2 linked regions of the Homo sapiens genome follow. The protein of the gene in region 2 purifies or fractionates together with the protein of the main gene of each other region. This does not show direct contact. Each region holds a gene or a part of one and is shown on either strand. Other genes may lie near its edges.

Region 1 (3,650 bases), on a different chromosome or scaffold from region 2:
ATTTCATTATAATGCTGACAAGATTAAAAAAAAAAAAACAACTCCCAGCGGGGGCCCCTGCCTGTGTGGAGTCTGTGTGTTCTCCCTGTGTCTGCGTGGGCTCTCTCCTGGTACTCTGGTTTCCTTTCACACAATAAAGATGTGCATGTTCACTTCAATGGTACGTCTGCATTGTCCCAGTGTGAGTGTGGGGGTGTGTGTGAGTGCTCCTCTGGTGGAATGGTATCCTGTCCAGGGCTGGCTTCTGCCTCATGCCCTAAGCTGCCAGGACAGGCTCCAACCACCTGTGACCCTGAACTGGAATGAGTAGATTAGAAAAAGAATAGATACAAATTATTGTAGAATTAAACTCATAAAATATCCAATAATCATACAGATGCATGACAGCAAACGATGTGGCATTAGTCATATGAGCCCCCCACATTGGTTATTGTTGGTTTTTGAACTGTGTGGTGGTAGGAGGTAGGACATTGATGTTCGCTTTGCAAACATTTATTCCTTGATTGAACCACCAACATCACGACCACTGTCACTCGCTGATTCACCAAAAGTTGGGTAAAGAATGACCTTGTTTATATTAATCTTTCTTAAATGTATGCATAGCTCACATACTTTTTAAAAGTTTTAATAACACCACTCCATTCTACAGGGTCCCAATGACTACTGCAGGGCATGTCACCTGGAGGCAACCATAGCTAAGGTGGCAGTGAGCAGGCTGCTGCTGCACCAGCCCTCCCCTGCTTGGGAGCACACAACAAGGAAGCAGTGCCAAGCCCTGCCTGGTCTGGCTTCAGGGCAGAGAGGCTCAAAGCTGCTCTAGAGCAATCATGTCTGGTCAGCTGACCACTCCCCGGCCCACTGTCCAGCGGGGACCCTCCCGTGCCACCCTCTAGGGAGGCTGCAGCAGACACGGGGCAAGGCAGGCGCTCTCACTGCACGAAAGGCAGGGGATGGACTCACGGTGTGAGCGTTGTTGATCTTCTTTACTTCCCATTGGCCTTCCCCGGTGTAAGTCAGCAGGGAGATGGCCCCATCCGAGCTCCCACAGGCCAGGATCAGGCCGTAGTCATGGGGGGCCCAGCACACCGAGTTCACTGCGGGAAGAGGGAGAGTGCAGTGAGCAAAGCAGGGAGACCGCGGCCCCAGGTCCCGCCTTCCACAGATTTACTGTTTTACTAAATGTCTACAACAAACAACTGTAGGAGTCACCGGGGGAAGCTGTAACTTGGTCAACTGAGGACACAAAAAAACCCCATCACCTACTAATACCACGATTTCATAACCTACAGTCTATCTAACAAAAAAGTGGGTAGGAAAACAATCTGAGAATGAAGGGTAGTCCTTGCAATGAATAATCCTGAAGAGAAACTCACCTGTCTTTTCTTATTTGCTTTGGACTGGCTTTAGGTCTTAGGGCCTTACTCAGCTGAGGACAGAGTAGCAGAAAAGCCAACCAAAGCTCAAGAGACAGACAAGAGGCACCACGAGGGGCAGGGAGCCAGGGCTCCAGCCGGGACAGAGTCCTTTTTTACCCAGTGGTCCCCTTGCCCGCTCTGCTGCCAAGCTCAGCATACCTGAGGAGTCGTGTCCCGCATGCTCGTGGCTCTTCTCCCAGGTGCCGTTTTCCTCTCTCCAGATAATGACTTTCCGGTCATAGGAGCACGATGCCAGGATGTTGCCGTACATGGGGTGAGCCCAGGCCACTTGCCACACAGGACCCTCATGACTACAAAGGGAGAGATAGGCCAGAGGAACCCACAGTGCCTCTGCAGGCACTACTTTGGACAGAACTAAATGGCTCCCTGAGACGATATATCAGGGCAGAATTGCTTAAGAACTTCAAAGGGAGAACTATACAATGCCATTGCAAAAGGGGTGCTCAGTGGACAGTGAGGAGCCTGAGGTCCTAAGAGGTTAAGCAACCTAAGGTCACAGAGCCTTTGAGAGAGAGTTGAGCCTCTGGGTCAGCCTTCCTGTCCTGGCCAGGCAGGAGCCTCACTTGCCCAGACTGCAGCCAGCACTGTCTGTATGTGCTGTCTACAGCATAGTCATTAATTGGTCCAAGGTTTCCAGCCAGAAGTGTTCAGGAAATATTTGTAGACTGAATTGCTATTCATCCTTCCCGACGGTCAGCTTCCTGAGGAGGCATTATTGGTTTCATTTTGATGTTTTCCACTACTCTTTTAATTTGTTCGAAAGGCATGTCTTTCCCTTCTCTTCTGATCTTTATCCATTCACCTGATAACAGGTGCTATCTGAGCACATGCTCTGTGCCAGGCTTTGTACGGTGACCATTTCTCTGGCCCAGGGAAGGTTTTGCACCTTAGCACTCAAGAGGTAGAGTAGCATGGTAGAGTTAGTGGTTAGGAGACCAGACCCATTCTCCCATTCACTAGCTCTTGACTTTAGGCAAGGATATCTTTGTCTCTTTACCTGAAAATGGAGACATCAATAAGAATTCTTTCATAAAGTTTGGAACAATGCTTGGTAGAAGGAAAGAAAAAAGCCACTCAATACCCATTAGCTATTAGTGCTGCTCCTGGTTTACTCCTTCACCGTGGGCTGCACACACTCAAGTCTCCTCCTCCCTCTGGCTGGGACAACAGGACATTCCCAGTCCCTACAAAGCTGCTGCTAATGAAACTGAGTAGACTCAATCTTCCAACAACTAGCACAGTTTTTACTAAGGGGAAAAAAGAATGGGGTGGGAATTTTTTTTATCCCTCCAATATTTCACATCCTTTGAATGTAAGAAAAACAGCAGAAAGGACAGAGTCACAGCAAACATAACTGCCTTGGCCAACACGCTGCACTGCAGCAGCTCTCTGCCTGCCTGGGGGGCTCCTGCATAGAGAAGCTTGATTTGGCTCCTCAGTCACTTGATCATTTGACACTCAGACAGAGGGGAGCTTCTAGGCCCATTTCCCCAAATGGACACTGACTTAGTTTATGCTTTTTAATTCAGTGAACAAACACATGCTGAGCACCCACCTGTCATGGCTCTTAATCTTTTCTGTGCATTCTGGGGAAGGTTATGGACCCTCATCAGACTAATGTACAAAACACACAGAACTAGGCTTATAAAGAAAATTCAATTATAAATTATACAGTAATCAACTTTTTTTTTTTGAGAAGGGTTTCACCCTGTCATCCAGGCTGCAGTGCAGTGGCACCATCGTGGCTCACTGCAGCCTCAAACTCCTAGGCTCAGGCCATCCTCCCACCTCAGCCTCCCAAAGTGTTAAGGATTACAGGCGTGAGCCACCTTGCCCAGCCTGTTATCAAAATATTATAAAGCAATTTATGAGATAGTGATGCATGTACTTCTTTGTTAACACTTCAAGCAACAAACCCTAGCGGCAGGTCTAATAACCACTGTAATTTCAAAGTTGTGATGAGCATAAGTGGTATTTTGAGGTAGCTAAGTAACCGTGATGTGTGATGACAATATCTGTGAATTCTACTGGTGACAAAGTGACAGGCACTACAAATACTACTGAAGTTTCTGGCCTACATCCATAATTGAAGGAAATGCTAAATATCAGAGTCACTGAAAATGCATTTTTTTCCCCCTGTCCCAATTCATCAACCCCTGAACTCTATTCACAGAACCCTTGGAGATCCACGGCACCCAGGCAAACCCACAAATA
Region 2 (3,650 bases):
TAATAGACTCTCGTTTGGCAGAGGGTCAGATTCTCCCTGTGTGGCCTTAGAAGGTAAAACAAAAAGTGGGTTAGATATTTTCAAGACAACAGATTTTAAGAGTAGGTCAAGATATTATCAAAAAGACAGATTCTGGCTCTATGTGAGGACATTCCCAACTCTACCAACTAAACAGGTATGGGCAAAAAAAACAAAGAAACAACACTGAAGTGAATGGCTGTGCAGGACTTCTGACTCAAAGAAGAGAGGTAAACAGCAACACTTTGTTATTACTAATCTGTGCATTTATACACGTTACTTTTTACAAGGTGCTTTCACACATCATTGGGCTAGCTGGTATTTTTACACAGGAGGAAGCTCACCCAGAGTCTTAGCTGTCAAATCACAACACTTTCTTTCTGTAACACTGTTCTTTCTAAAACAAAGCTAATGGAACATAAAGCAAATCTGTTAGAACCCCCATTTGCACTCCCCCAGGGTTCCAGGAACAATAAAGAAGAAGATACTAGTGAAAATGTGGTAAAAACGATGTTTGTGGAAGCAAAGGAAAAACTCCAAAAATAGAATAGCTTACCTTGTCCATAAATGATTGAAAGATGAAGTGAATAAAGGACAGGAACTCTTCGTCAACAAAAACCATGTTGATAGAAGAGTGAAAAATTAGAAATTATTGGTAACAAATTAAGAATAGCTGGAAACAGAATAAATACAGCTTGTGAGATTAGTTTTCCTTGTTCATACATGTATTCAACAGTTATTATTAGAACACTTAGTATGTCTTGGCACTGTGCTAGGCTCTAGGGTTACAGCAAGAAACAATGTATAGGCCAGGTGTGGTGGCTAACACCTGTAATCCCAGCACTTTGGGAGGCTGAGGCCAGTGGATCACCTGAGGTAGAAGTTCGAGACCAGGCTAACATGGCAAAACCCTGTCTCTACTGAAAATACAAAAATTAACTGGGTGTGGTGGCACGTGCTTATAGTCCCAGCTACTGAGGAGCCTGAGGCAAGAGAATCACTTGAACCAAGAGGCGGAGGTTGCAGTGAGCCAAGATGGCACTGCTGCACTCCAGCCTGGGTGACAGAGCGAGACTCCATTTCAAAAAAAAAAAAAGAAAAGAAACAATATGTAGACATGGCCTCCACCTCGCTGGATCTTCAGACTTATACAGGAAACAAACATTAAAGTATACAAATTCTTTTTTTTTTGAGATGGAGAGATGGATGGAGTCTTGCTCTGTTGCCCAGGCTGGAGTGCAGTGGTGCAATCTTGGCTCACTGCAGCCTCCACCTCCTGGGTTCAAGCGATTCTCCTGCCTCGGTCCCCTAAGTAGCTGGGACTACAGATGTGCTCCACTATGCCCGGCTAATTTTTGTATGTTTTGGTAGAGGTGGGGTTTCGCCACATTGGCCAGGCTGGTCTCGAGCTCCTGGCCTCAGGTCATCCACCCACCCCGGCCTCCCAAAGTGCTGGGATTACAGGTGTGAGCCACTACGCCCGGCCCCTACAAATTCTTAATTATAAACTCTGGCAGGTGTCATGAAGAAAAAATACAGAGTGCTGTGTGAATGCCCAACATAGGACCCTAACTTAGTGCAGACAGTCATGGAAAGGTTCATTTATTAAACCTAGATTTGCCGTGATTTTAGTCCTAGAAGATGAGGTGACCACGTGCCCAACTCTGTCCTTATAGTGCTGACCCACAACCATGTGCTCTTCCCCTTTTAACCCTGGCCTTACGTGGGCCAAAACGCTTTTCCTTGGTTTTTCCTTGCATAGCTGAAACAGGCTGGCATTTGAAAACAAAAAGTATTTAGTACCAAAGAACAAAAGGAAAGTAGTGTTGACACTAGTGTTAAGGTGATCTCATCTTGAGAAAAGTTGTACTAATTATGATTAGTTTTAAATGTCCAGTTTGCCGTGCTTAGAACATATAGCGAGAGGGGAAGAGGTGGTGGTGGGGAGAAAAAACCATAGCGAATTCACTTATTTAGAGAAATGTTATTGAACATCCTATGTGCCAGGCACTGCACTGGGCTCTGGAGACAGAGTGATAAACAAATGACTGCTGAATTAGGATAGCCTTCCTATTCTGATAATGCTCTGAGCCCCAAACCATCCCTTAACAAAAAAATTCTTTTTTAAAACTCCAGTAAGTCTCTTGTACATGCTTTTTTAGATAAGAACTTTGGCAGTATCCAGCATAGTCAACACATAATATCCCACCCACACTAGCTAAGTCAAACCTGAAGGAGAGGTTGCCTGGTTTAGTATCCCACCCTAAAACCAAGGATCAGAGAAAGAAAGGGTGAGTAATTGCTGTGATTTCCTTCTTTGCCAATAAATAGACCCCTTTTCTGTTTTTAGGAGCATGGCGATAAGAGTGTACAATTTGATGGGACTTTTCGATGGGGTGTGGTAGTCAGGAATAACTATCTACTTTTTGTAGCTAACTTAGAAATCATTTTGCAGTAGGTTGGGTGCGGTGGCTCACGCCTGTAATCCCAGCACTTTGGGAGGTGGAGGCGGGCAGATCACAAGGTCAGGAGTTCGAGACCAGCCTGGCCAATATGGTGAACCACCATCTCTATTAAAAATACAAAAAATAGCCAGGCATGGTGGCATGCCCCTGTAGTCCCAGCTACTCAGGAGGCTGAGGTGGGAGAATCGCTTGAACTGAGAAGGCGGAAGTTGCAGTGAGCCGAGATTGCGCCACTACACTCCAGCCTAGGCGACAGAGCGAGACTCCGTCTCAAAAAAAAAAAAGAAAAAAATCATTTTGCAGCGTATTGGTTTCCAATGCTACTTTAATCATCCTTGATACCTTCCTTTTTGTTACTTTCCTCCTATGTCCTGACTTATAATTAATCACCAGTTCTTTTCTGTCCTATCCTAAAGATCCCTTGAAATACAACTAAGTTCACTGTTTAGTTCAGCTGACTTTTTGTTTTCCATAATAAGACTTTCACCGTGAAAGATAGTGGTGGTTTTGCATCCTGGCATTATCTCATCAAGACCCAGTCTCACACAGTTCACAGAATGGCTACTTTGAGTAGCTCTAGTCTAAGCCACTGTCATCTCCCCTAGTTGTTAGTCTGCGGTGGGAGGGTGCTTTCTAAATCACACAGTAGCCAGAGGGAATTTTTTTTTTTTTTTTTTTTTTGAGACGGAGTCTCGCTAGGCTGGAGTGCAGTGGCGTGATCTCGACTCACTGCAAGCTCCGCCTCCCGGGTTCACGCCATTCTCCTGCGTCAGCCTCCTGAGTAGCTGGGACTACAGGCACCCGCCACCACACCCAGCTAATTTTTTGTATTTTTAGTAGAGACGGGGTTTCGCTGTGTTAGCCAGGGTGGTCTCGATCTCCTGACCTCGTGAACCGCCTGCCTTGGCCTCCCAAAGTGCTGGGATTACAGACGTGAGCCATGGTGCCCGGCCACCAGAGGGAATTTTTTTTAATGCAGATATAATGTTACTGTCTTGTGGAATTCCTTTAGTAGCTTAAACTCACTCAAAGGATGAATCCAAAATCCTAGCCAGGACCTGTCTCAACACAGTGTTGGAAAGCAGTGTAACAGAGAGTAGTATCTCCCAAGGTGTAATTTCATTTTATTATTATTTTTATTTATTTTTTGAGACAGAATCTTGCTGT

Evidence for each region. The genes of interacting proteins can lie anywhere in the genome.
Region 1: the proteins of SZT2 (region 2) and SEC13 purify together in Homo sapiens (affinity purification with western blotting; one study listed by BioGRID and IntAct). This does not show direct contact.

What each region holds. Positions count from the first base shown.
Region 1 is NC_000003.12:10,311,005-10,314,654, forward strand, and holds part of SEC13 (protein SEC13 homolog), read right to left. Parts: intron 1,727-3,650; coding exon 1,575-1,726; intron 1,095-1,574; coding exon 961-1,094; coding exon of another isoform or gene 826-960; exon of another isoform or gene 572-825; intron 1-571. UniProt on the Homo sapiens protein: Functions as a component of the nuclear pore complex (NPC) and the COPII coat. At the endoplasmic reticulum, SEC13 is involved in the biogenesis of COPII-coated vesicles.
Region 2 is NC_000001.11:43,396,325-43,399,974, forward strand, and holds part of SZT2 (KICSTOR complex protein SZT2), read left to right. Parts: intron 1-3,650.